Linked DNA regions of Homo sapiens. The protein of the gene in region 1 interacts with the protein of each later gene in a biochemical or structural test. Each region holds a gene or a part of one and is shown in the gene's direction. Other genes may lie near its edges. The genes, in order: MYOD1, EP300, CREBBP and STAT3.

Region 1 (7,017 bases):
TTGCTTATTCAGATTTGGGGAAAATCTAGATTTGCATAGATAAGTGGTTTGAATAGCTCACCTGGGAATCTCAGAGTACTCTTTAATTAAGTAGACTCATTCATTCATTTGCCCAAGAAATATTTATTGAGTGCCTACTATGCACCTGGCTTTCTGCTGAGCCTTGAGCAAGTAGGAAGAAGTATTTGTTTCTAAATCATCAATACAACAATTACTTACATTCCTCATTGTGAGTATAGTGAAAAAACAATAAGAAGACACATCGAGATGCCAAATCTCTCTATAGTATACCACTACAATATTGCAGCATGCCATGTATAATGCCCAGTTCAAGAGAACATGCCCCAGGCAGATGGGGTCTGAGCCTTTCCTGGGAAGAGCAAGTGTAATAGAACATGGATGTCTAATCATGTATGTGACTTCCCAGTTTTGAAGAAATTCAACCATCTTCATTAATGTCACAGTTCAAGACATTCAAATATATGCATAGAGATGCAAAGGGCGTGAGGCCACTCATTCATTCACTGGACATTTATCAGGTGCCTACTGTGTGACTGCCACTGTGATGGTTTTTGGAAATGTCATTGTGAACAAAACATCTTTGCCTTCATGGGGCTAAGTCAGTCATGAACAAACTAATGAAGAAGATTATAAAGAGTGGCAGTGCCTGGAAGGAAATTAACAGGGTGGTGTGAACCAGAGTATGGGGGGCAGTTATCTTAGAGGGAATGGTCAGTGATGTCCCAAGGAGGCAAGAAGATCTATTATATAAAATGCAGTCAATCTTGGGAAAAGCCCAGGGGATAATGCTATGAGTTTAGAGCAGCAAGGACAAGGCTCCAAGGCAGGATCCTGTTCAGAGTGTTAGAAGACAAGAAAGGAGGTCAGGCTAACTGGAGTAGAGCAATCAAAACGGATGGTGCCTCCAGGTGTAGTAAGAGACACAGGCTGAGGCTAGCTCATGCAGGGCCTGATAGGCCAGGGGATGGAGATGAGATTTTACTCTAAATGCAAGAAGCTGCTGGGGAGTTTGAAGCAGGAGGATGGCATAATCCCATTTACATTGTAAAGGTCTACTCAGGCTGCTATGTAACGAATGGATTATACTGAGGCTACAGAGGAAGTGAGGAGGGCAGCCAGGTTATTGTGGTCATCCAGAGCAGCAGTGTGACAGCTTAGTCCAGGATGGTGACACTAGGGATGGACTGACTTGAGACAGGTCTTAGAGGTAGAATGGACAGCTCTTCCTCATACTCAGACCTCTCCTTGGGAACTCCAGCCTTAAAAATCCCCCTGCCTAATCCACACTTCCATCTGGATATCCGATATGCATTTCAAATTTTGCCCAAACCTGGACACTTAATCTACCACCCACAAACCTAGTCTTCTCAACTCCATTCTTGCAGGAGTCATCCTTAGCTCCTTGCTTATCTCACTTCCCACATGCAATCGTGAGTAAATACTGCTAGCTCCATCTTGAAAACATATATCTAGAATTCAACCACCACTTTTCACCAGCTCCACTCACTGGGATTATTGCAATAGCCTCCTAATTGGTCTCCCTCCTTCTGCCCTTTCCCTCCAGTAACCAGCATGCTCCTGTTAAAATGTAAATCAGATAGTGATATTCTTCTCTTCCGCTCAAGCCCTCCAGTGAGATGGCTCAAGCCATCTCAGAATATAATCCTGTTTCTCTCTCTCTCACCCCATTTCCCACTATCTCTTTTACTCACCCTGCTGCAGACATATGAGCCTCCTTGCCATACTTTGAATCTGCCAAACATGGTCCTGCCTCAGGACTTTTGCACATGCTTATCCCTCTATCTGGCCCTACATATCTCCAGGTATCTGCTTCCAATTCTCTTCATTCAGGTCTCTGCTTAAATGTAGCAGAGAGGCCTTCTCTAATCACTCCATAATCTTCATCACTGTGTCTCCCTGCCTTGCTTTTTCTTCATAAGGCTTCTAACCTCCTGGCATCACATACTTCCTTGCTTATTTGTTCATTGTCTATCACCCTGCTTACATTGACAATGTAAGTGCCATGTAAGCAGAGTCTTGGTTTTGTTCATTGCTCTAGCCCCACACTTGGACTGGTACCTGCCACATAATGGATACCTAACAATATGTGGATTTCCGGGTGACCCCCTGCAGCTTGGGTGGGGTGAGGCCAGGACTTTGCTGCCTCTGCCAGGATTTAGAGTTACTGTCACTGCTGCTCCATGATGTAGACTTTACTGAATGAACAAATACAGGTGGGCCCTATGGAGTAAAGCGAGGTGAGTACTTCATGAAGGGAGACCTTCAGCACCACTACCAGCAGCAGAGAAGTGAAGAAGTTAGGACCCCAACAGAGCCCTCTGAGTTTTGTGGGAAGGGAGGACTTCTTAGGGCCCAGAACGGCCAGCTAGAATGCCTTCCAGAAGTTAGTGGGAAAGGCACAAAGATCACTCCTGCTTAAATTTCTGGTTTCCAGGAGGGGAGATCCAGGCAGGGATGTATGGCCAACGGAGATTCCTAGCCAGAGTGCTGAGAGGACTGTGTGAACTGCAGATTCAGGAAGAGGCTGAGAGACCCCCATGGGGGTGGCCGGTATGCTGAGGCTTGTATGGGAGCCAGATATCCCACATCCCATGGGGTGGTTGCCTCCTCCTGTTTCCAGCCTTTCCAGTGAGGCTGCAGGAAAGAGACACAGCTAAGGCCTGGAGACTCGTGGCACTCCGTCAGGGCATGGTACCACAGATGAGTTGTAAGCCTGCGGGACACAGCATCCAACTCTGAAAGCCCCTTGCTCGAATAACCCTACATCACCGCCTGAGGGCTTCCATATCCTTGGTCTCTTCAGACTGTCATCCCCACCACAATTACTCCAAGAAATTACTGTCATCCCCAAATCTATAACTGGAAACTGAGGCTCAGGAAGGAGACATGACTTCCACAAAATCACACAGTTGGGAAACTCTGGAGTCTGCACTCAACTGGTCTGCAAACCGCACTCTCGGAGACTTCAGGTGAGATGAGGTCAGGTTCTCAGGCCAGGTCCTGAAGTTTGACACCTTGGCGAAATGCACTTTCCTTGACTCAGCACCGCGAGTGAGGCGGAGCCAAGCCCCGAGCAGAAGGGTTTTCTTCCCAGCTGAAGAGGCAGCTCAGCCTAGACCCCAGGCATGGCACTGGACACCCCTGCTGTGGAAACGTGCAGATTTAGATGGAGGGGATTCCTAACCTGGGCAGGATCCGAGTTTGGAGAGATTGGCGCGAAGCTTTAGCAGCAATCTCCGATTCCTGTACAACCATAGCTGGGTTTCTAAGCGTCTAGGGAAGAAGGACTGGGCCCACGACCTGCTGAGCAACTCCCAGGTCGGGGACTGGCGGAATATCAGAGCCTCTACGACCCGTTTGTCTCGGGCTCGCCCACTTCAACTCTCGGGGTCTCTCCGCCTGTTGTTGCACTCGTGCGTTTCTCTGCCCCTGACGCTCTAAGCTTTCTGCTTTCTGCGTGTCTCTCAGCCTCTTTCGGTCCCTCTTTCACGGTCTCACTCCTCAGCTCTGTGCCCCCAATGCCTTGCCTCTCTCCAAATCTCTCACGACCTGATTTCTACAGCCGCTCTACCCATGGGTCCCCCACAAATCAGGGGACAGAGGAGTATTGAAAGTCAGCTCAGAGGTGAGCGCGCGCAGCCAGCGTTTCCCGCGGATACAGCAGTCGGGTGTTGGAGAGGTTTGGAAAGGGCGTGCCGGAGAGCCAAGTGCAGCCGCCTAGGGCTGCCGGTCGCTCCCTCCCTCCCTGCCCGGTAGGGGACCTAGCGCGCACGCCAGTGTGGAGGGGCGGGCTGGCTGGCCAGTCTGCGGGCCCCTGCGGCCACCCCGGGGACCCCCCCAAGCCCCGCCCCGCAGTGTTCCTATTGGCCTCGGACTCCCCCTCCCCCAGCTGCCCGCCTGGGCTCCGGGGCGTTTAGGCTACTACGGATAAATAGCCCAGGGCGCCTGGCGAGAAGCTAGGGGTGAGGAAGCCCTGGGGCGCTGCCGCCGCTTTCCTTAACCACAAATCAGGCCGGACAGGAGAGGGAGGGGTGGGGGACAGTGGGTGGGCATTCAGACTGCCAGCACTTTGCTATCTACAGCCGGGGCTCCCGAGCGGCAGAAAGTTCCGGCCACTCTCTGCCGCTTGGGTTGGGCGAAGCCAGGACCGTGCCGCGCCACCGCCAGGATATGGAGCTACTGTCGCCACCGCTCCGCGACGTAGACCTGACGGCCCCCGACGGCTCTCTCTGCTCCTTTGCCACAACGGACGACTTCTATGACGACCCGTGTTTCGACTCCCCGGACCTGCGCTTCTTCGAAGACCTGGACCCGCGCCTGATGCACGTGGGCGCGCTCCTGAAACCCGAAGAGCACTCGCACTTCCCCGCGGCGGTGCACCCGGCCCCGGGCGCACGTGAGGACGAGCATGTGCGCGCGCCCAGCGGGCACCACCAGGCGGGCCGCTGCCTACTGTGGGCCTGCAAGGCGTGCAAGCGCAAGACCACCAACGCCGACCGCCGCAAGGCCGCCACCATGCGCGAGCGGCGCCGCCTGAGCAAAGTAAATGAGGCCTTTGAGACACTCAAGCGCTGCACGTCGAGCAATCCAAACCAGCGGTTGCCCAAGGTGGAGATCCTGCGCAACGCCATCCGCTATATCGAGGGCCTGCAGGCTCTGCTGCGCGACCAGGACGCCGCGCCCCCTGGCGCCGCAGCCGCCTTCTATGCGCCGGGCCCGCTGCCCCCGGGCCGCGGCGGCGAGCACTACAGCGGCGACTCCGACGCGTCCAGCCCGCGCTCCAACTGCTCCGACGGCATGGTAAGGCCGGGACCCCAGGAAGTGAGGAAGTTAGGGCGGCGCTCGGGATATCAGGGACGCGTTTCCGAGGGCGGGGAGCTGGCCTTGCGGGAGGTTTGGGCCAGGATCCTTCCCGAGAGAGAGGACCCCCTTGTCCTGGGCAGCTGTCACTGGGGTAGCCTGTTTTGGAAGTGTGCGGGCAAGCGTTCGAGCTGCCCCATTGGGGGCGCTATTAGAACACTGCAGCGCGAACGTGAAGATCTTTTTCTCTACTTATCCCTACTTCCAAAATGTAAATTTGCGCCCCTTGGTGACTGTCCGCCCTTGGTTTGGCCCTGCATGTTGCAGACCTCATCTCCTACCCACCCGTAATTACCCCCCCAACCAGGACAGGTCTGGGCCCGGAACTAGAGCCTTAGGCTAGAGTTAGGGAGGGGGCGGCTACAGGAATTGGTGTTCGGGCCTCGAGCCGTCCCGCGGGCCTGACTCAGTCGCCCTTGCTGTTTGCAGATGGACTACAGCGGCCCCCCGAGCGGCGCCCGGCGGCGGAACTGCTACGAAGGCGCCTACTACAACGAGGCGCCCAGCGGTGGGTATTCCGGGCCTCTCCCTGCTCGCTCCTCCTCCTTCATGGAGCTGTCCTGGCCTCTATCTAGGACGCTCCCACCCCCACTCACACACGCCTATGTCCTGGGAAGTGGTGCAGGAGATGAAATACTAAGCAAGTAGCTCCCTGTCTTTTGGATTGTCCCGGACTCTAACTAAAGTCCTCAGTTTCCAATCTGTCTCAAAGTACTGGGCCCGGGGGTGGGAGGCTTGTCGCGGCCCCACCCCTGCTTACTAACCGAGCCCTCCCCGCGCAGAACCCAGGCCCGGGAAGAGTGCGGCGGTGTCGAGCCTAGACTGCCTGTCCAGCATCGTGGAGCGCATCTCCACCGAGAGCCCTGCGGCGCCCGCCCTCCTGCTGGCGGACGTGCCTTCTGAGTCGCCTCCGCGCAGGCAAGAGGCTGCCGCCCCCAGCGAGGGAGAGAGCAGCGGCGACCCCACCCAGTCACCGGACGCCGCCCCGCAGTGCCCTGCGGGTGCGAACCCCAACCCGATATACCAGGTGCTCTGAGGGGATGGTGGCCGCCCACCCGCCCGAGGGATGGTGCCCCTAGGGTCCCTCGCGCCCAAAAGATTGAACTTAAATGCCCCCCTCCCAACAGCGCTTTAAAAGCGACCTCTCTTGAGGTAGGAGAGGCGGGAGAACTGAAGTTTCCGCCCCCGCCCCACAGGGCAAGGACACAGCGCGGTTTTTTCCACGCAGCACCCTTCTCGGAGACCCATTGCGATGGCCGCTCCGTGTTCCTCGGTGGGCCAGAGCTGAACCTTGAGGGGCTAGGTTCAGCTTTCTCGCGCCCTCCCCCATGGGGGTGAGACCCTCGCAGACCTAAGCCCTGCCCCGGGATGCACCGGTTATTTGGGGGGGCGTGAGACCCAGTGCACTCCGGTCCCAAATGTAGCAGGTGTAACCGTAACCCACCCCCAACCCGTTTCCCGGTTCAGGACCACTTTTTGTAATACTTTTGTAATCTATTCCTGTAAATAAGAGTTGCTTTGCCAGAGCAGGAGCCCCTGGGGCTGTATTTATCTCTGAGGCATGGTGTGTGGTGCTACAGGGAATTTGTACGTTTATACCGCAGGCGGGCGAGCCGCGGGCGCTCGCTCAGGTGATCAAAATAAAGGCGCTAATTTATACCGCCGTGGCTCCGGCTTTCCCTGGACATGGGTGTGGGATCCGGAGGAAAATCCGCAAACTGGGCCAGCTGTCCCTCAGCGACGCCTGTAGGCGGCAGGCGGATTGCAAGGAGGAAGCCTGCTGCCTGGGGAAGGAAGGAGGGGTGCAAATTTCTCCAGTACGTGAGGAAGTTCCTCTGACCTTGACTACATTACTACACACGTCCGTGGCTCTTATGGAAGGGTACACAGGTTGATATGAGTATTTTTTAAACCCATGTCTGAGCTCGCCCCCTAGATATTCTGATTTAATGTTTCTGCCCCATATACCCAGGGCCAGGTATTGGTATTTTTTTTCAAAAGCTCCCCAAGTGATTCTGAAGTTCATTCAAGGCTGAGAATCATCCCCTCCATATAAAGTGAGTGAACCCAGGTGTGATAACCAGAAGAACCACGGGAAGGTTGTGGCCCAGGCAT
Region 2 (7,023 bases), on another chromosome or scaffold:
AGATATCCACCCACCTCGGCCTCCCAAAATGCTGAAATTACAGGTGTGACCCACTGCGCCCAGCCTTTAAATATTTATCTTAAAAAATAGTATCAAGATGTTCCTTTAAATAATTCATCAAGTTTCCTTAAAATGACAAGAGCTGCCTCATGGAGCAATAATAGATACATTCGTATCTGCATCATATGGGGCAAATGTGGGCAGTAGGATTGCGGTTTTATTTTTAAACCATTTTCATTTGATTAGTCTCAAATACTTAAAAATCAGAAGATTTTGCATTTAAAAAGTCTGAATTTCTGGCTGCTTTAAAAAAAAAAGGACATGTCTGGCAGACTTGACCCCCTTTCTCCTACAGTGACACCTGTCTATAGCTGCACTCATGGCTGACTCTAGAAGAGCTGTGTTTTCTCTCCACTTCAGTCCTCACCATTCTCTATTGTTTTGGGTACTTAAAACAGTTTTACTTGGTATTAGCTGCTTGGCACTTGCCATTTAGCTTGGAACACCTATCCATATTGTTGACTTGAAAAAAAAGTTACTCATATCTTAGGTGAAAACATTGTTTTGTAGATAGTGTGCGTGAATACAGATATGTGTGGGGAGGAAGAGGAAAGGTTTATCTCAAGGTCATTTGTTGGATCCTGATTCATTTTTCTATTGATTTTTAATTTTTATGTAATGAGCATGGATTATGCATATACTTCTTATAAAGCTTGCAGAGTTACAGATAAAAGTTTATATGAATAAATGTTGAGCATTTCCTCTCTCAGTTTTGCTCATTTACTAAAGGTTGAAATTTGTCTGAAGGGATGGACATCTCCTTAGAAGAGCAGCAGGTCTTCCTCTCCTATGCCTGAGGCTTGAATGTACAGCCCTTGATGGAGGGTATGGCCAGGGTGGAGCCAGGTCACTACAGACATCTGTCCTTTCCGAGGGTGCTGTAAAAATATTTTCTCTGTGCACTATGTTGAAAGTACTACACTAGAGCATGTGCAGATAATCCAGGAAAAAGACCTTAGAATTTATGTATTTATATTTTAGGTTTTTTTTGAGACGGAGTCTCGCTCTGTCGCCCAGGCTGGAGTGCAGTGGCACGATCTCAGCTTACTGCAAGCTCCACCTCCCGGGGTCATGCCCCGGGTTCACGCCATTCTCCTGCCTCAGCCTCCCGAGTAGCTGGGACTACAGGCGCCTGCCACCACGCCCGGCTATTTTTTTGTATTTTTAGTAGAGACGGGTTTCACCGTGCTATCTAGGATGGTCTCGATCTCCTGACCTCGTGATCCGCCCGCCTCGGCCTCCCAAAGTGCTGGGATTACAGGATATTTTATTTTTTTAAGAATTATTTCTGTTTTTGTATTTAAGAGGTACATGATATGTAGTGTGGTATAATATGCATATTATTTAAAATCAATGTTCACAGTTTATGTGCATAAAAACGTTGTGCTACATGATCAAATTCGGCCACCATTAGACATGATTCATAGCTATTATCCATGGAGATACTCTGTTGCATGCCAACCAGACTCAGACTTTGTTAAACAATAACATATTAAATGCTATGATGGCCTCAATTTTTTTTTTTTTTTTTGAGACAGAGTCTTGCTCCATCGCCCAGGCTGGAGTGCAGTCGTGTGATCTTGGCTCACTGCAACCTCCGCCTTCCAGGTTCATGCGATTCTCCTGCCTCAGCCTCCTGAGTAGCTGGGATTACAGGTGCCTGCCACCACGCCTGGCTAATTTTTTTGTATTTTTAGTAGAGACAGGGTTTCGCCATGTTGGCTAGGCTGGTTTTGAACTCCTGACCTCAAGTGATCCACCCACCTCAGCCTCCCAAAGTGCCAGGATTACAGGCGTGAGCCACTGTGCCTGGCCTATAATGGCTTCAATAGCTTATTTTTCTATCAACATTGAAAGCACCCGGGCTCATAAAGGAATACCAACAAATCCACTTGGAGGCATTTTTCTGTATTCCAGAAATAACATTTTCTTCAAGCTTCTGTCTAGTTCAGAGCTTTATTTTGTGATTCATACTCAATTTTCAAAGGTATTATTAAAAATATTTTGTGGGGTTTGTGTGTGCAGTGAGTTTTTGTTTGGTTAAGGGAAGATGGTGCAAAGATACTTATTTCTCTTTTTTACTCTAGATGGCCCTCTACCTGACCCAAGTATGATCCGTGGCAGTGTGCCAAACCAGATGATGCCTCGAATAACTCCACAATCTGGTAAATAGTGAAAAAAATTTTTTTATTTTAAAAGAATCCCCGGTGTACTGCAAGATAATACTTGCTACCTGAACACCCGCTTTATGCCAACAGCAAGTGTCATGATTACCTGCCCATAGAGGAAGAGGGGGTGAAGAGCAGGTTGGCTGGCAGATCACAGGGCAGGTGACATTAAATGATCAAGTATCCATTAAAAAACAACTGCAGGCTGGGCATGGTGGCTCACGCTTGTAATCCCAGCACTTTGGGAGGCCGAGGCTGGTGTACCACCTGAGGTCAAAGTACGAGACCAGCCTGGCCAATGTGGTGAAACCCTGTCTCTACTAAAAATACAAAAAAATTAGCCGGTTGTAGTGGCACGGGCCTGTAATCCCATTTACTCTGGAGGCTGAGGCTGGAGAATCACTTGAACCCAGGAGGCGGAGTTTGCAGTGAGGCGAGATCGCGCCACTGGACCCCAGCCTGAGTGACAGCAAGACTTCGTCTCAAAAAAAAAAAAAAAAGCAGATTGTAAAATTTGTAAAATTCAGTTTGGAGATCCTGTTAGTTGATAATGTCTGTTTACTGCTACTGTGAATGAGACAGATTTATTTATACTTAGAAGGTTGAAAGCCAGTTTATTAGTCCTGATAGAATCAGGGCCAGGTGCGGTGGCTCACGCCTGTAATCCCAGCACTTTGGGAGGCTGAGGCGGGCAGATCACAAGGTCAGGAGATAGAGACCATCCTGGCTAACACAGTGAAACCCCCGTCTCTACTAAAAATACAAAAAATTAGCTGGGTGTGGTGGCGGACGCCTGTAGTCCCAGCTACTCAGGAGGCTGAGGCAGGAGAATGGTGTGAACCCAGGTGGCAGAGCTTGCAGTGAGCGGAGATTGCGCCACTGCACTCCAGCCTGGGCGACAGAGCAAGACTCCGTCTCAAAAAAAAAAAAAGATACAGAATCAGACATAAGAATTCTATCTTTTATTATTCAATTTCACAAAGGCATTCAGATCTAACATTTTGCTCATATTCACAGGTTTGAATCAATTTGGCCAGATGAGCATGGCCCAGCCCCCTATTGTACCCCGGCAAACCCCTCCTCTTCAGCACCATGGACAGTTGGCTCAACCTGGAGCTCTCAACCCGGTTAGTTTGACGTCTTTGGTAATCTCTTTGGCCTTTACCTGGTATTTTGAAAATCCTGTTTGTTCCTACTTTATAAATTCTCACAGTCATTTAAACAGACCATAACTCCTAGTTCTTCTGTAATTCTTCTGTATTTAACTCTACTAGAAAGCTGACCAAAAAACGAAAACAGCCAGTCCCTTGTCCCTGGAGTGTCAGTGTTTAGTGGCCTGCATGCGTTTTCACGGTCACTTCTCTTCCCTGATGTCTGTCTTCCCTCCTCCAGGCAGAGAACTGTCTTGCAAGGTTGATGGTGCGTTTTTGCCTGGTTCTTGAACTCGGAGAAGAGAGACTAGGCTTCTCCTGCTCCTTATGCGAACTCTTAACCAGTCCATCTCTCTACCTTGACCCTAACCCTCCTGCTGCCCTTTAGAGTTAGCTGGTGCCTCTGATTCTTGACCCTTTTGGGGGTTCCTGAGCATTACTACTTCTCACTAATCTGCCATTTTCAACAGGGAGTTCTGTCCTTCATTTTAACCTATAAGACAGATGGTCTTAGCTTATGAAGTTTTTGGCCTTTGGTACTCGAGATTTCTTTCTTTAAGGCCTGAATTTGTGTAGGGTAATTTTGGAAATGACATGTAACAGTGCTAGAGCATTTGTGGACCATGAATGCTACCAGATTCTGCTACAACTTGTAAGATTTTCTTGTTTTTACATATTATGGGTCTTAGAATTTGTGTTATTACATCACTGACATGACCTCATGAAATTGTGATTAACTCTCCTCACTTAACAGAGCATGCAAAGAAAATTACCTGCTATCCTTGTGCTAGGCATATTTGTGTACCAAGAGAATGTGTGTTCCATCCTCTTACTATTTCTTGGAGTAGGCCTAGGTAAACTGTGAGGCTATTTCTCTTTATCTTGGCACAAGAGTCAGTTGTTCTACAACTTTCTTCCTTCTCCTCTTCAGCCCTCTTCACCTATACTCCTGTCTTTGGCTTTTCTCTACTTAATAAGCCTGACGTTAGGAGCATTTGATGATTTTAGTTATAGTAGAATAACTATAATGAAGCAGTTTGGTGATTTGTGTTTTTTTTTTTTTTCAGCCTATGGGCTATGGGCCTCGTATGCAACAGCCTTCCAACCAGGGCCAGTTCCTTCCTCAGACTCAGTTCCCATCACAGGGAATGAATGTAACAAATATCCCTTTGGCTCCGTCCAGCGGTCAAGCTCCAGTGTCTCAAGTATGTCTCATAAGTGGATTTTTCACTTATTTTTGATTCTTGAAACTTCTCTTGATGTAGGTTTTTATAGGAGAGAGTGGCAGCAAATAGTGGGTGAAAACAGATGATTTTTTAAAAAATAACAATTTTGGACTTAGGGTATTCTGAACATGAAGAGATTATTCTGTGACATAGCAATGGTGTTAATTGTTACAAAGTAGGAAATAATTTAAATGGATAGTTTTAATTGTTTTTACTAGTGAACACTTTAAAATAAATCTTAGAATTAAACACAATGTAGAAGGAAATCTGGCTGAAAAGAGCATAGGCAGGCCCTAGAGCACTCTGCACTCAATTCTGCCATTTTTCTGCGGTGGCTGAGGCCATTCTGCTGAATGGTTTGAAGTCTCTTTAGTTAAGTACTATCTTGATGGTGCTGTCCAAAGATACATGCCCAGTAATAGGGTATTTTACACATTTTGAAATAGACACATTGCTACTCTTTGTTTAATCAGTTTGTGTCCTAAATTTATATATCATGCCTATGTAAGTATTTCCTTAATTCTGTTCTGAATTGCTGTCTTGTTATGTTTTTTATTTTAACAGGCACAAATGTCTAGTTCTTCCTGCCCGGTGAACTCTCCTATAATGCCTCCAGGGTCTCAGGGGAGCCACATTCACTGTCCCCAGCTTCCTCAACCAGCTCTTCATCAGAATTCACCCTCGCCTGTACCTAGTCGTACCCCCACCCCTCACCATACTCCCCCAAGCATAGGGGCTCAGCAGCCACCAGCAACAACAATTCCAGCCCCTGTTCCTACACCTCCTGCCATGCCACCTGGGCCACAGTCCCAGGCTCTACATCCCCCTCCAAGGCAGACACCTACACCACCAACAACACAACTTCCCCAACAAGTGCAGCCTTCACTTCCTGCTGCACCTTCTGCTGACCAGCCCCAGCAGCAGCCTCGCTCACAGCAGAGCACAGCAGCGTCTGTTCCTACCCCAACAGCACCGCTGCTTCCTCCGCAGCCTGCAACTCCAGTAAGTAGAGATTTGGATTTAGGCAGAATCATTAGAGCTATACTGTAGTATTATATTACTTCTGGGCCATTTCCATTCTCTTTTGCTTTATCTCTTACTGTTTTCTCCACAAGTAGAATGTAATCTATTTTTCATTAGGGACTTTTGTATCCTGTTTTGCCTTCCTGTGATAGTACCTATCGTAGCAGGAGCATAAAGATTTTATTTAGCTCTGACTTTGACCATTATGTTTCATGTTGTACCCTGAGGTCTGAAGGTACGTAAAGGGGTACGACAAGGGGACACAATCCTTCTCCTTATTTAGTATATTATTTAGTGCAGCACATAAATTTTACATATATTTAAGGAATCTTTTTCAAACAGTTTGAGCCATAAAACCTAGAGATTGAATTTAAAAATTGCAGATTTGGACGGGCGCGGTGGTGTACACTTTTCATCCTAGCACTTTGGGAGGCTGTGGCAGGCAGATCACTTGAGGTCAGGAGTTCAAGACCAGCCTGGCCAACATGGTGAAACCCTGTCTCTACAAAAAAATAACAAAAATTAGCCAGACATGGTAGCGGGTGCCTGTAATCCCAGCTACTCGGGAGACTGAGGCAGGAGAATGGCTTGAACCTGGGAGGTGGAGGTTGCAGTGATCCGAGATTGCGCCACTGCACTCTAGCCTAGGCGACAGAGTGAAACTCCGTCTAAAAAAAAAAAAAAAAATTGCAGATTTATGAGTCCTTGTGGCCCAAACCAAAGTTTAAAAATAAGATGAGAGAATTATAGACCCAGAACAACCTGTAGCTTCCTTGTGAGAGGTTGGTTATGTATATAATAAAAATCCAAATTCTCATCTAATAGTTGAATCCTTATTAATAGAACTTTTTTTAAGGGTTTAGAAGCTTCTACTTTGATACCGATATTAATATATATCGGTATCCAATAGTTCTCAGCCATGTTGATGAACTGAGAAGTTCCATGAGTCACAGCCGTTTTATAAAGTACTGTACTTGACGGATGGCTGGTTCATCGTGGCCTCTGATAGACAAGGAAGGACAGAATGAGAGAGGAACCAGTGGATCTGCTTGATTTTATTCTTTATAAAATCAAGGATACTTCCAGAAAATACTGACTTCTCATTAAGAGATTTCTTATGACAAGCCTTAGGATAAAGATAGGGAATGCCAGTTTATCTCATTAGAATCTAGCGATTCAAAACAGCCACTCTCTGGGACATCATTATATTTATTGTCTCCTTTTCTGTACCTTTGAAACTTTCTCTGGTGAGAAGGTAAAAACAAGCCAGTCTTTCTTATTTTCTTTCACTCATTTCTGTATAAATGTGAGCTCCTCTGAAGCAGACATCTTTGAAATCCCCACACACTGCCAGATAATGATAGTTATCAATGAAATAGTTGCTGGTTCTTTGAT
Region 3 (7,023 bases), on another chromosome or scaffold:
GGCTCATTATCAAGCACATTAAACAAGGGGCTGCTGGGCGCCATGGCTCATGCCTGTAATCCCAGCACTTTGGGAGGCGGAGGCTGGTGGATCAACTTCAGGTCAGGAGTTCAAGACCAGCCTGGCCAACATGGGGAAACCCCATCTGTACTCAAAATACAAAAACATAGCCAGGCATGGTGACATGCACCTGTAATTCCAGCTACTTGAGAGGCTGAGGCATGACAATTGCTTGAACTCGGGAGGCAGAGGTTGCAGTGAGCCAAGATCGCGCCACTGCACTCCAGCCTGGGTAATGGAGTGAGACGCTGTCTCCAAAAGAAACGAGGGACACTTTGTCTGTTGTAACTGCTCCACTAAGAAATTGAGTAATGAGATGGACAGAGATCTTAGGGATGTATTTTAAACAAATAAATGGCTTGAGTTTTTACATTAAATACATTCAAAAACTGAAGGCATTTGGTTAGGTGGGACAGACCTGAGAATAACATTCTTGAGGAACTCAATCTTATTTTAGTGACGGGATGTGTCTCTGAGGCTCCCAGGGGAAAATTGGGCCTAGTGGAGCAGGGTGTGTGCCCGGTGCATGTGATCAAATTTGAGGGAGGGGACCTCTGTCTAGGAGCTGAGGGGTTGAAAGGAGGAGGAGCCCTTGGCAGCCTGAGAAACAGGATCTACTTGGACTGCAGTGCATGTCTGTAGAGACTGGCCTGTGGGGCCACCAGTGTCACTTAGATGTGTCTGTGAAGGGTGGCAGTGAGCTGAGAGAAAAATGCACCCGACATTGGGGAGCTGCTCAGCCAGGGTGCTGCTCATCTGGGGGCATGGATGTTGCAAACAGCACTCCCGAAGGTCATGCAGCACCTCAGAGTGATGAATGTCACTGCCACTGATGACAAACAAGTTGCCGAAGCCTGGGAAGCTTATGCAGAGATGATGCAGAAATACGGAATGTGCTGCGAATGAGGGTAGCAAGAGAGAAACGGTACCTTTCACCCCACTGAAGCAGCAGCCCTGGAGAGGCACAGAATTTGATGGCCTCAGATGTTAAAGTAGCATTTTCTTGTATTATGTAGAAGCCTTTACACTTTCTCATACATGAGGTCTTCCTTTACTTGGCACCCTTACAATAAGTGGGGACTTTATATTACCGGTATATAGTTAGTTGGGTGTTTTGGAAACTTCTTTATTTAATATGTCCAAGTTAAAATAGCATATTGTGTCTTTCAACATCAGAGATTCATGATTTAACAGTATAAGACAAATATCCAGGCAAGCAGTAGACTTTTGTTTTTTGTTTTCTGGGTTGTTTTTTTTTTTTTTTTTTTTTTTTTTTGGTCAGCTTTATTGCAAAATTTGCACACAACAGACTGTTTATAAAGTTTTTTGAAATTGCAGGCCAGGGTGGTGGCTCATGCCTATAATCCCAGTGCTTAGGGAGACTGAGACAGGAGGATTGCTTGAGGCCAGCAGTTGGAGACCAGCCTGGACAACATAGTGAGACCCCATCTAAACAAAAAATTTTTTTAATTAGTTGGGTGTAATAGTACAATCCTGTAATCCCAGCTATTCAGGAGGCTGTGGCAGGAGGATCGCTTGAGCCCAGGAGGTCGAGGCTGCAGTGAGCTGTGATCATGCCACTGCACTCTGGCCTGGGTGACAGAGTGAGACCCTGTCTCTGGGGGAAAAAGGAAAAGAAAAACTACATTCTGAAGATTGAACATAGCTGTGTTTCATCCTGTGCTGTATAAGTGGCTCTAAGCAGTTGTGATTACATTTTATGACGTGAATCCTTTTAAATGCAATAGGGAAGCTTATTTAAAGAAAGCTGGTGGCGAATATGGTTGTCAACCAAATGGTCTGTTATGTATGTCTGGTACTTTATGTATCAGAGTGCTTTTCTCCACGTCACCTCAGTTTGATCCTTACAGCGTCCTGTGAGGAAGGGAAGATGCTGTTACTGCTATTTTCTAGGTGAGGAACTGGACTTGAGAGGTGATACAGGGTCAAAACCAGATCCAAACTAGATTGTTAAAGTCCGTAGCTCTATATATTTATTTTCTAAGTCTCTATCTGTAAACAATGCATTTACTTGAATCGACCCAGGAACCTGCCAAGCTTAGTGAGTTTCAGTAGCGGCCTTCCCGCACATGAATGAGATCACTAAGGGGGAGGTTTGTAACCACCTGTGGTGGGGGCAGCCAGGAGTGTATTCTTCCTCCTGGGTTAGGGCGTCCCCCTTTTCCCTCTGGTTCTGGTGTTATCCTCAGCGTGACGTGTGTGGGCTCGTGTTCCTGTTTACCTCAGGGAGAATGAGAAACGGTTATGTTACCCCATCAGTGAGTTCTGGCTAAGTAGGAATAAAAGTTGTCATAGAGACTTTTAGGACTAGGACATTTCATGACCGTGCTTCGTTTTTGAATAACTGAGAGGGGTGAGAGCGGTGGCCCCATTCAAAGGTCGTCAGGGATGAAGGTAGGCAAGGACAAGTCATGTGCAGGGCGCCTTAGAGGGCCTTCAGAAGATGGAAAGTCGCTCCTGGCTGAACATTCAGATTTGATTCTGTAAACAGAATTGAACATAACTTACAAAGAGACTGAGTCCTGCAGTTGGAAGTTGATGCTTAGATTAGTCGCCTGTGTTTTCACAGCTTCTAAGTAGTGTGTTGTAATTGTGTGGCAAAGTATGTGATTACCTGGGGGGTCCATAATTGCTGACTTGTGTTTTTACTTGATGTATTTGAAAACAGTTAGGAAAATGATTTTGCCAAAGTGTGTCTTACCTTAGTTAAGATGAAATGTACCTTATTGTGAGTTTCTGAAGATTGCAAAAGCTTGTCAGTTTAGTTTTTGGGGTCCCATTAGTGAGGGCACCCCTCTTTACCTTACTCAAACCAGCTCTTCACATGTATTCCAAGAAACTAGAGGGCATGCTAAGAGGTATTTCTCAACAAATGGTTTGTGCTCAGATGCTGTTGCTTGTAGCTGAGGAATTTGACTGCAGACTTTCCCAGAGCCTTGGTGTCCTGATTGGGCACTGTGAGAGAGGGGCTACAGTTGGACCACTCTCAATCCTGTTTGACGCTAGAACTCTTTTTAGCCTATTATGGGTCCGCAGACTTCCTCTGCAAAGGGCCAGAGAGCACGCATTTGGCTTTCTGAGCCATATGGTCTCTTGTTGCAACTACTCAAGGCTGCCATTTCAGCAAGAAAGTAGCCATAGGCGAGTGGGCCTGGCTGTGTTCCAGTAAAACTCTAGTTGTAAAGACTGGCATCTGAGGACTTCGCCCATGGGCTGCAATTTGGTGACTGATATAACGTGGGACTTCATTCTCTGAGCACCCGTTGGGGAGCACTGGCCTACCACGGCTGCACAGACAGCTTTAAGGAAAACAGCAGCAGGGCAAGTTTTCTGAGCTGCATGATGTGGAGCCCGGGAGAGCCCAGGTGAGCAGCAGGCTAGCTTGGGTCTCCTGTCTTGGAGCACTTCAGAGCTTAGCAGGGCCCTCTCTCTCTGTCTTTTTTGTTCCTCTGTAACAGTTATATGGATGACTTGATTTAAAATCAGACGAATTTATCAGAAAGCCTGGTGACCGGTTGCATTTTTCTTTGTTCTTTTGCTTTTTGTTGACCCCAGTGGCCCACATGGCATTTCTCGTCCGTCTTTGTCATCTCAGGCTCTAGGCTTGCTCCCCTTCCTGTGACACCAGAAGGTGAGCGTCAGTAAGAACTCCAGAGCCTTTCCACGGCCCTCTTCCCAGCACTTCCCTCCCCAGGGGCAGTGCCTGACACATAGTAGGCCCTCAGGAAATATTTGAGGGAATTAGTGAAAGAATTATATAGTATTTGTCCCTTAAAGTTCTTATCATTTTCTTGTTAAGGTTTTACTTTCAAGCAGATTGCCACCTATCTTCTAATTGGGTCTGTTATTTGCTTCCGAGTTCCGTACCCATGGGCTCCCACCCGGCCACCAAACCAGCTGGCCTTAGGAGTGCTGAGGCCAGAGCATGTTTGGGGCAAGTTACATCAGCTCTCTGAGCTCAGAGTTTCCTCATCTGTAACATGGAGATAATAACAATTCCCATCTCAGGGTGGTTATGAGGGTAGCCTGAGATGATGTGTGTCTGGCATATCCGCCCAATGGGAACTGACACTAGCGTTAACCAGGGACGTTGTCGTACCTTGTAAGTCCTAGGACTTACTGGGAGTGCTAGTCTGATTGGAGCAAGACCTGTTTCTCAGCAGTTCTGGAAAGGACAGAAGCCATGTGTGCTCGTATCCACAGAAACCAGTGTGCAGGCACGCGTGTGATAGTGTAGCACCTCAGCAGATACATAGCCGGGAATTCTGTCATCTATACCATTGACTCTGTCTCCATTTTTTATTGTATTTTTAAAAATAGGAACGTGATGGCCATGAAAGCTTAAAATTACGAAAACTTAAATGGTGTGTGTTCTGAATTATTTTTTCTTTTAAATCAAATCAGGATGTACACTGAAAATTATTGATAATTTTGAAGCATATTTCATGGACTGTTTAAGCAGCAGACAAGTATGTGATTCTGTTTGTTTACTGTGTATAATTTATCTTGAGGTACCTGTTAAGCATTAGCAGTGTACACAGGATTCTGATAGATGCCTGTGAGTACTTAGAACCATCTTGAGAAGATGAAACCTCGAGGCAAAACTTAAGGAAAGGGTACAGAAATGCAGTCAAGTGCAAAAACTCTGGAACCAGAAAGGGTGATCTGAATAAGGCTTCATTTACTCCCTCCCCTGTTTCCTGAGTGTCCCCGTGTGCAGAAGTCCAGGGCCGCATGCCCCAGTGGGAGGCAGGCCCTGGGATGGTTGAGGAGCCTTGGGCTCCTGTGACAGCTCTTCTGCTGAGCCAGCACAGAGCCAGGAGTTGGGGAAGCCTGCCTGTTTTCCATGCATTCCTGGTTGTTGGGAAAAGCACCCTGACCATGACAGTTTGTTTCCTGGGGTATCGTTGTAGGCCCATGGCTTGCTCACATCTGAGTCCTCTTCTGGTTGTCCCGTCTCTCCTAGGCTCTGAAGCTCCTGGCCGTGCCGTCTGCTTTTTAGCACATGCGCTCAGCGTTCCCTTTAGTCCTCTCTGAGGTCTTTTCCTTGCAGTGCATCCCTCCGGATACACTCCTTGCTTTAACTGGAAAAGGATGCTGCTCTTCTCAGTCAGGCTCAAACTTGGCTTTCGGCAAAATTCTCCTATTGCATGAGTCTTTGATGCAGAAGTGTAAGCCTTGGGAGCAGTGCCTGTGGGGGCTTTTGCCTGTTCTCCTTTCCCTGGGGCCGTGCTCTGCTGACAGGGGTGCTACAATAGGCCACGAGCAGAGTCCCCGGGGCGTCCTGGAGTGGTCAGGTCTTTGCCATTTGAGCTGTGACTTGAAGAGATTTGAGCAAGGGCACACAAATCAAATTGGGCAAGGCTGTGTGAAAGGCATGGAAGTAAACAAAAGTGGCCCCTCTCTTTTTAAAGTTTTTTTTATTAAGTTCCTAGACAATATAGGCGGTGACTGTGGCTGTATTTAAAATACTGCCTTTAGGGTGTTTTCTGGTTCTAAATTTAGGAAGCAAGGCTATTTTTGAGCTCTGTCTCTAAAAGTTGAATTCCTTTTAAAACTTACCCTTAAGAAAGATTTGGATATTATCCCGTGTGACATTTTCCCCGGTGTTTCATTTCCATTAATCAAAAGACTGTTTAGTTGAACCATTGCTAAGAATAGTAAAATCTAATGGGGAAAATAATTCTACATGATTAAATCTGACTTTACTTTCCCATTTCTAGTTGTACTGTCTGCTATTGTTTGAAAATGTCTTAATTTGCCTTTCTAATATGCCTGTACTATATTGTATACAGTAGGTATATTTTCCAGTTGCACCTAATTCAACCTTTCGAATTTGCATAATCTGTGGTAAGGAGAAAAAGTAGTTGTGTAGTGGAGTTGTACAATTCTGTTGTAAAGCAAATCTTTTTATAATTCACAAGCTGCTTCTCCTCCCCCTAGTTTGGATTTTTCTTATTAAAACTGCACCACCTAAACATGTTTTAACTTTATGGTTAAAATAACCAGTGAAATAGAAAAATAAGTCACTGTTCTGTATGATAACATGTAGAGAAGGCTTGTACAACATTTAAATAAGGAGATTTGGGTATTTGATTACAAACTGAATGAGGACATTCAGGAGCTATAGAAATTTATCAGGTAATTAGGGTTTGCTTAGACAATTATAGACTCTACGAGTTTGACCCAGTTGCTTTGGATTAAAATATTTTGAGTATTTGTCACCTGATTAAAAGTAGAACCTTCTAACTGTGAGTCACAGTTGAAGGAAATGTCAGCTTTTTATACGGGGAGGCGGTCAGTGTGGTGCTGAGGAGGGAGCCCTGGCTCCTGCTCAGAGTAGACTGTGAGTCCCAGCTCCCAGCTCGGCAGCGCTGTGACTTGGGCTGGTGACATCACATTTGAGTTTTGCAGGGTGGGGTGTGTGTGTGTGTGTGTGTGTGTGTGTGTGTGTGAGTGAGAGAGAGAGAGAGAGAGAGATCTCTAAAAGGGGCTTTTTACCCTGCAGTATTCCATTTGTTTCTTTTCTTTCTCTTCTCTCTTCTTTCTTTCTTTTTTCTTTCTTTCTTTCTCTTTTCCTTCCTTCCTTCCTTCTTTTTTTCTCTTTCTTTCTTTTCCTTCCTTCCCCTTCCCCTTCCCCTCCCCTTCTTTACATTACTTTTCTTCTTTCCAATGGGGTCTTGCTTGCCCAAGCTGGTCTTGAACTCCCATCCTTCAGCAATCCTGCCTCGGCCTCCTGAGTAGCTGGAATTACAGGTGTGAGATGGAGCCACTGTGCCTGGCTCTACTTCTGCTTACTTTGATTATCTTGGTACATGGGGCTACTAGGGTGCCTGGCATATAGCAGGTTGAGGCAGCTGTTTTTATTGTTTAATTGTATGGGAAAATATTAGCCATCACCTACTTCTTGGGCCAGTGAGGACTAAGATGATGTAGCCTGAC
Region 4 (7,901 bases), on another chromosome or scaffold:
TCTAGGCTAGATGATAGATGCTGAGATTATGAAGACAGGGCTTAAGGGGTTCAAGTTTCCAGGAACCCACAGTTTAGGGGAAGATGTTTGTTAGCACGTGGCCAGAGAGTCAGCCAGACCTGATTTTCATTCTGAGTTTCCACCTAGTTTCTAGCTGTGAGACCAGTCTTGAGCCAGTCTTTCACTTTCTCAGTCTTCGTTTCCTCAATTGTAAAATAAGAATTATAATATTACCCTCACTGGGTTCTGGTGAGGATCAAATGAGATAATCTATGTAAAATGCTTAGCACAGTTCCTGGAATATAGTAGTAATTACTTAATCAATGTTAATTATTGTTTTTTTTCAGGAAGTAGGCCAATATGTGGATTTATTAGAATTCAAGGTAGAGAATGTATTCTAGATGGGGAAACAACCTGCCGAAGGAGTCTGGTAGGAGATTAACTTTGCCAGTAAGAATAGAAGGAAGCCTAGAGGAGGTGATGTTGCAACAGGGCTTTGAAGAATGAGTAAGAGTTCTCAGGTAGGGACTGAGGAAAGAGATTCCAGGTAGAAGGAAGACTATCCACAGAGGCATGAAGTTGCAGAAGGTGTAGACATGTTTGGAGGAAGGTAACACATTTAGTAGGGTTTGTGGGACTAGGTTAGAAAAGGGGGGATTCAGGTCAGCCTTTGTGGAATTTATCTTTTTTTTGAGACAGAGTCTCACTGTATTACCCAGGCTGGATTGCAATGGTGCAATCTTAGCTCACTGCAACCTTTGTCTCCTGGGTTCAAGCGATTCTTCTGCCTCACCCTACCGAGTACCTGGGATTACAGGTGCCCGCCAACACGCTTGGCTAATTTTTGTATTTTTAGTAGAGACAGACTTTCACCATGTTGGTCAGGCTGGTCTTGAACTCCTGACCTCAGGTGATCCACCCGCTTCGGCCTCTCAAAGTGCTGAGATTACAGGCGTGAGCCACTGTGCTGGGCCTGTAGGATTTTATGATTCAAATAAAGAGGGAGAAAGAAGGAACATCAATTGAGCTCCTACCACATGCATGGCACTGAATTATGGTGTTTTTTTCTTTTTTCTTTTTTTTTTTGAGACAGAGTCTCACTTTGTTGCCTGGGCTGGAGTGCAGTGGCATGATCTCGGCTCACTGCAACCTCTGCCTCCCGGGTTCAAACGATTCTCCTGCCTCAGCCTCCCAAGTAGCTGGGATTACAGGCACCCGCCACTATGCCCAGCTAATTTTTTTGTATTTTTAGTAGAGACGGGGTTTCATCATGTTGGCCAGGCTGGTCTCGAACTCCTGACCTCAGGATTCGCCCGCCTCGGCCTCCCAAAATGCTGGGATTACAGGCATGAGCCACCGCGCCCAGCCATGGCACTGAATTAAATGGTCAGCTTTTTGTTTATTGTTTGTTTTTGAGACAAGGTTGGTCTTGTTCTGTTGCTCAGACTACAGTACAGTAGAACAGTCATAGCTCACTGTAACTTCGAACTTCTTTCTAAGTTCAAGTGATCCTCCTGCCTCAGTCCTCAGAATAGCTGGGACTACAGGCATGCCACCACCACGCCCGGCTAATTTTTTGTAAAGTTGGTGTTTTGCCATGTTGCCCAGGCTGATCTCGAACTCCTGGCCTCAAATGATCTTCCTGCCTCGGTCTCCCAAAGCTTTAGGATTACAGGCATGAGCCACTGTGCCTGGTCAGCATTTTTAAAATTTAACTTGGATTGGCCGGACACGGTGGCTCCCAGCACTTTGGGAGGCTGAGGTGGGCGGATCACTTGAGGTCAGGAGTTCAAGACCAGCCTAGCCAACACAGTAAAACCCCGTCTCTACTAAAAATGCAAAAATTAGCTGGGCATGGTGGTGGGCACCTGTAGTCCCAGCTACTTGGGAAGCTGAGGCAGGAGAATTGCTTGAACCTGGGAGGCGGAGGTTGCAGTGACCCAGGATCATACCATCGCATTCCAGCCTAGGCGACAAGAGGAAACTCTGTCTCAAAAAAAAAAAAAAAAAAAAAAATTAACTTGGATTTTATCTTGCCGGTAGTAGGGAACCATAGAGATTTTTAAGCCGACTGTGACATGATTGAATTTTTTTTTTTTTTTTTTTTTGAGCCAGGGTCTTGCTCTATCGCCTAGGCTGGAGTGCAGTGGAGGGATCTGGGCTCACTGCAACCTCCACCTCCTGGGTTCAAGCAATTCTCCTGCCTTAGCCTCCTGAGTAGTTGGGACTACAGGCACGTGCCACCATGGCTAGCTAATTTTTACTTTTGTTTTGAGATGGAGTTTCGCTCTTGTTGTCCAGGCTAGAATGCAATGGCGCGATCTCGGCTCACTGCAACCTTCACCTCCCGGGTTCAAGAGATTCTCTTCCCTCAGCCTCCCGAGTAGCAGGGATTACAGGTGCAAGCCACCATGACTGGCTGATTTTTGTATTTTTAGTAGAGACAGGGTTTCATCATATTAGTCAGGCTGGTCTCGAACTCCTGACCTCAGGTGATCTGCCCGCCTCAGCCTCCTAAAGTGCTGGGATTACAGGCGTGAGCCACAGTGCCCAGCCTAATTTTTGTATTTTTAGTAGAGACGGGGTTTCACTGTGTTGGCCAGGCTGGTCTTGAACTGACCTTGTGATCCACCCGCCTTGGCCTGAATGTTTATTTATTTAATTTTTAGGATGATGTCCCTGGCAGCCAGTGGAAGAATAGGATAGAATAAGGAGAGAATAATCAGGTGGTTAAGGCAGTGGCCCAAGGGACAGAAATTGCAGCATTTAGCCAAGAGGAATTTGGCGGGGTTGTGGAGAAAGGCCAGTGTCTGGGCTGAAGAGAATTTTTGCAGGTCAAACCCATAGTCGCAGAGGTAGATTTTATGTGTTACTGGTGGGGAGGCCAATGAGGGAAACAGAGGCCAGCTCTTGAGAAGTCAGAAGCAGGGCAGGGTTTGAATGAATGGAACAAAGCTATGGGACGTAAAGCCCCCAAACCTGACTCTGAACCTGGTATATTTCTGAGTTTCTCTGTGATCTTGAAAATGTCATATTATGTTGTCTTTAGTTTTCTATCAGCGGATAATATGGCCTCTCCTATCTGCTATTCATGATTGTGAGAAAGAAACCAGGCAGGGAGTGTATAAGGTGTGTAAGTCCTTTGTAAGCAGTAAATCACTAAACAAATCCTAGACCCTATGTTATCAGGGAGGCAGTTGGCCGCACGGGATAGCGTAGTTACAAGAGACTATAGGCGGAGATGGGGGATATCTGTCCTGTGGTGTAGATAAACAGCCTAATCAATACACACACACTCTACAGGTAAATACAGCAATTTCCATACTGAGCTGTGTCTACCAGAGGGCAATAGGAGGTTCTCAATTCTCACCACCAGTGACCCTATGAATTGCCCTGTAGATGCCTCTGTCCCTCATTGGATATGAGGTGGTACGAGCGGTCTGAATCTGTAGACTTAGACAGGCTTCAGGTATCTGGGGAACCATGTGAGTAAAACCTTGTATTGTTTCTGGGGCTAGAATCTAGTCTCCTTCAAACACTCAGAAGGATCTGTGACTGCCTTCAAAGGTTAAGAGTCATTGATTTTTCTCACTAGAAATTAATAAGAACAGCTATCCTTGGGGAGAAGGAATGATGGGGGTAGGGAAAGATTTTCATTTAATATTTTTGACCTTTCTGAACGGTCTGCATTTTCTAAACAGGAACATGTATTAGGTTCATTGAAAAAAAATATGTCAGGGGTTAGCTGAGCAGTGAGATAATGGGTCCTTTTTAGATTTTTGTCTTTATACCTGTTCGTATTAAACAAACACAAATATTAATAACATATTTTTAAAGACCCAAAAAAATAAAAATTAAAAACCCTGATAGTATCAGCACATACACAGAAATCACTCCATTATGCAAAGTTCATCCTCTATTATGAAAGGCAAAATGTCTACATTTCCTATCAACCACTGGCTTCAATTCAGTAAAACTTGCATACCAAGTAGGCAAGGTGGAAAAGAAAAAGGCAGAACATTTCATGTATTTCAATTCAGACGCATAAAAATGTCAAGCCCTACACGTTATCAGCTTTCGTATACACCGTCTTCTGCATTCGCCTGTACGGGCCAATGGGCTAGCTGGTCGGCGTTTGATGCTTGAAGTGATGGAACGGAGTACGGGGTTAAATCCACTACCCTCTCCCCACGCACTCTAGTAATTACTCTATTTCCACGTCATGTTTCCGGGTGTGTGTGTCCCTGCTCACGCAGAAACTGAAGTTCAAAGCAGGCGGAGTCACCCATGTTCTTTTTGTTGTCCCCAGAACCCAATTCAGGAGTTGGGTCCCCAGAGGATCTGGAGATACCTGGGGACTATCTAACTAGCTGATTCCCGCGTGGTAAGAGGCTCTCAACCTCGCCACCACGTGGTGCCAAGGGCCGGGAAAAGGGAGAGCGGGCAGGAGGGAGCTGTATCAGGGGCATTTAAAGTGCCTTGACGTCACGCACTGCCAGGAACTCAGCTGAGTTTTCAGCAGGACATTCCGGTCATCTTCCCTCCCTCCCCCCGGGCTTCTGTGCCCAAGTCCTCGGCTCTTCCCTCGCTGTGGCGGAGGGAGGAGCACCGAACTGTCGGAACAGCCAGCACAGGGGCGTATCAGTCTCCTCTTGGCTCCGCCCTTTCTCCTAGCTGCTCTCCTCATTGGTCAGTGGGCGGGGCTTCGGCTGTACCGCACACGCACTGGGACCTCTGGGTGGCCGAACGAGCTGGCCTTTCATGAATTATGCATGACGGCGTGCCTCGGCCAGGCTGGGGCTGGGCGAGGATTGGCTGAAGGGGCTGTAATTCAGCGGTTTCCGGAGCTGCGGCGGCGCAGACTGGGAGGGGGAGCCGGGGGTTCCGACGTCGCAGCCGAGGGAACAAGCCCCAACCGGATCCTGGACAGGCACCCCGGCTTGGCGCTGTCTCTCCCCCTCGGCTCGGAGAGGCCCTTCGGCCTGAGGGAGCCTCGCCGCCCGTCCCCGGCACACGCGCAGCCCCGGCCTCTCGGCCTCTGCCGGAGAAACAGGTGAAGGGGGTGCAGGGTGGGGCCGTTGGGGAGGCCTGGGGACCCGGGGGCTCCGCAGCGGCAGGGGGCCTCTGGGACCTTGGGGATGTTGTGATGGACGCTGCAGTGGGGCCGGGAGAGATGAAGAGACGCGGAGGGTCGCCCTGAGGGAAGACTCTTCGGGATGACAGGAGCGGGCCTCGGAAGGGACTCGGGGCGCTGGAGGGAAGTTTCGTTCTTCGGAGAAACAGAACGCGCTCGAGGGGGCACCGTGGGGCGAGGGCGCACTCGGTTGCGGCGGCAGGAGTGAGGGACAGTCCCCCGATTTCCTGCTCCCTGGGGCCCTGGGGACGTTCCGGCCACCGGAGCGACTGTCACGCCGACGGGGATCACCGGCGCGAGTGGGGGGTCGGAAAGCGCCTCCTCCCCGCCCGGTCGGCGGCTCCCGCTGAGCCACTTCCTCCGCTTGCCCTGTTCCCGCTCCTTCAGGAGACAGCTGTGCCCTTTTGGAGGCAGGAATAGGTGTGTCTGTCGCCTGCAGCCTTACGGGCTGGCTGGTCGTGGGTAGGCTTTATTGCATAAGAATCAAGTTTCCTGTAGGGAAATTGACAGACCGGTACTCTTTCTAAATTCCCTCGCATCTTTTTCTAGGTTAAATTATGCTCCCCCCACGTCCCCGCCTTGTAAAAAAGAGAAAAAAAGACAAAATAAAATCCCCATCAACCCGTCAAGCCAGCTCTAGAGAGAGAAATAAACCTCTTGACATTGTCCTTTTCCAAATACCTGGTAAAGTCGGCCAGAAGATAAATAATTGAGCCATTGCATTTACTGGATTGTGGTGTTGCTTAATTGCATAGGACGGAATGAACCAATTGAGAGTGGGAGTTTTCTGTCTCAGAGCCAAGATCTTGGGTAAATGCAGAGGAGAGGGAAACAAAGACAGGCTGGCCTTGAAAAAACCATGTGTGCAAACTTTACATGCATTTGGGGGGTGTGGTTGCACTGAAGTTAACAAGATTCAAACCGTCGCCCAAGTTGGTATTTCCATGTTTGGTACACATCACTCTGTGCCATATCAGGTCGTTGTTAAGTGTGGTGACAAAATCAGTGGTTAGTCATTTTTTTAATTAAAAATGTGTATAGTGTGTACCTGCTGGTCTTACTGTATGTGCAACTAAAGGTTTACATAGTCTGTGTATGGGTTGTAAATTTTTGGCTGGCTGTGCTGATAAAGCATTGGGCTTGAATAAAGCAAAGCAGAAAATCATCTCAATCTTTTATATGTGGATTTAGACTGTGTTATGACTTGGTTCAGCCAGTTTTCTATCTTATTTTATATTAAATATGTCTGTGTTCTCTGAGTCAGCACATTTATTTCCTTATTACATGTTCCAGACAGGAGTGCTAGCCCAGTTTTTGTTCAGTTTGCACAGTGGGATGGGGAAACAAGTCTGGAATTTAAAAAAAAATGTTTTAGAGGTTGGAGCCTTGATTTTAGTCTCTATATTAGCACATCCATCACAAAGAACCATTAGTAAATTCATGAATCTTTTGTTTTTTATGTAGTTCATTTGAGAAGAATAATCACTTAGAAATATCCACAGTGCCAGGCATGGTGGTGCACACCTCTGATCCCAGCTAATTGAAGGCTGAGGTGGGAGGATTCCTTGAGTCCAGGAGTTGAGTCTGGTCTGGGCAACATGGTGAGAGGCCAGGAATTGGGTCTAGAGTCTAGTCTAAGCACCATAATGAGAACCCATCTTTAAGAAAGAAAGAAAGGAAAGGAGGAAGAAAGGAAAGAAAAAGAAATACCCACAGCACAGTTATGAATTAACCCACAAAGGACTTGTGAGGTGGGTAGTTCACATAACAATTACCCTAATATCGTAGATAAGAAAATTGAGGCCAAAGGATCAAGACACTTGGCCAACGCAGCAGAGTGCCATAGTGGTGGAATTTGTGCCTCCTTCTGTATATTTTGTGAAAAGTATCAGTGAAATTCTTTTTTTTTTTTTTTTTGAGTCAGAGTCTTGCTCTGTTGCCCAGGCTAGAGTGCAGTGGCGCAATCTTGGCTCACTGCAACCTCTGCCTCCTGGGTTCAAGCGATTCTCCTGCCTCAGCCTCCCAAGTAGCTGGGACTACAGGCGTGCGCCACCACGCCCAGCTAATTTTTGTATTTTTAGTAGAGACCGGGGTTTTACCATATTGGCCAGGCTGGTCTTGAACTCCTGACCTTGTGATTTGCCCACCTCTATCTCCCAAAGTGCTGGGATTACAGGTGTGAGCCACCGCGCCCAGTAAGTATCAGTGAAATTCTAACATATATCTGAACAGTAAAATACCACCAATAGGCTGAAAGACTTCATGGGAGGTAAATATTCAATAAACAGGTGAAAAAAGAAATACAAATGGAGCTTGCTTAGATTATTTTTCTAATTGCTATGTCTAACTTGGGAAGTGAGGAACTGTTTTTGGTCAGCATAATTTACCATCAGAATTTAGCTATTTACTAATGAAAAGAAATACTAATCTAGGTTTGTTTTAGATTAAGGACAGTCATGACCTAAATGTCATTTAAACCAGAGTGCATTGTGGCTTGATCAGTGGTCATTTCTGTCTCTAGAAAGTTGCTTTAACTTCTCTGCCTCTACGTGTCTCTTGACATTCAGATATGAGGTGGGGTAGAGGTGGTGACCAACTTTCCAGACGCCTGAGTCCAAACCTTCTTAGCTTATGGTTTTCTTAGGTGATGTGCAAATCAACAAATATATACTTTTTTTTTTTTTTTTTTGAGTTGGAGTTGCACTCTATCACCCAGGCTGGAGTGCAGTGGCATGATCGTGGCTCACTGCAACCTCCTCCTCCCGGG

What was found.
Region 2: the proteins of MYOD1 (region 1) and EP300 form a complex in vitro, tested with the Homo sapiens proteins (4 studies listed by BioGRID).
Region 3: the proteins of MYOD1 (region 1) and CREBBP form a complex in vitro, tested with the Homo sapiens proteins (4 studies listed by BioGRID, with this or other methods).
Region 4: the proteins of MYOD1 (region 1) and STAT3 form a complex in vitro, tested with the Homo sapiens proteins (one study listed by BioGRID).

The regions. Positions count from the first base shown.
Region 1 is NC_000011.10:17,715,571-17,722,587, forward strand, and holds MYOD1 (myoblast determination protein 1), read left to right. Parts: upstream 1-4,000; 5' UTR 4,001-4,212; coding exon 4,213-4,842; intron 4,843-5,331; coding exon 5,332-5,410; intron 5,411-5,684; coding exon 5,685-5,938; 3' UTR 5,939-6,566; downstream 6,567-7,017. UniProt on the Homo sapiens protein: Acts as a transcriptional activator that promotes transcription of muscle-specific target genes and plays a role in muscle differentiation. Together with MYF5 and MYOG, co-occupies muscle-specific gene promoter core region during myogenesis.
Region 2 is NC_000022.11:41,144,592-41,151,614, forward strand, and holds part of EP300 (histone acetyltransferase p300), read left to right. Parts: intron 1-2,147; coding exon 2,148-2,225; intron 2,226-3,245; coding exon 3,246-3,355; intron 3,356-4,446; coding exon 4,447-4,584; intron 4,585-5,169; coding exon 5,170-5,607; intron 5,608-7,023. UniProt on the Homo sapiens protein: Functions as a histone acetyltransferase and regulates transcription via chromatin remodeling. Acetylates all four core histones in nucleosomes. Histone acetylation gives an epigenetic tag for transcriptional activation.
Region 3 is NC_000016.10:3,870,713-3,877,735, reverse strand, and holds part of CREBBP (CREB-binding protein), read left to right. Parts: intron 1-7,023. UniProt on the Homo sapiens protein: Acetylates histones, giving a specific tag for transcriptional activation. Mediates acetylation of histone H3 at 'Lys-18' and 'Lys-27' (H3K18ac and H3K27ac, respectively).
Region 4 is NC_000017.11:42,385,431-42,393,331, reverse strand, and holds the start of STAT3 (signal transducer and activator of transcription 3), read left to right. Parts: upstream 1-4,889; 5' UTR 4,890-5,053; intron 5,054-7,901. UniProt on the Homo sapiens protein: Signal transducer and transcription activator that mediates cellular responses to interleukins, KITLG/SCF, LEP and other growth factors. Once activated, recruits coactivators, such as NCOA1 or MED1, to the promoter region of the target gene.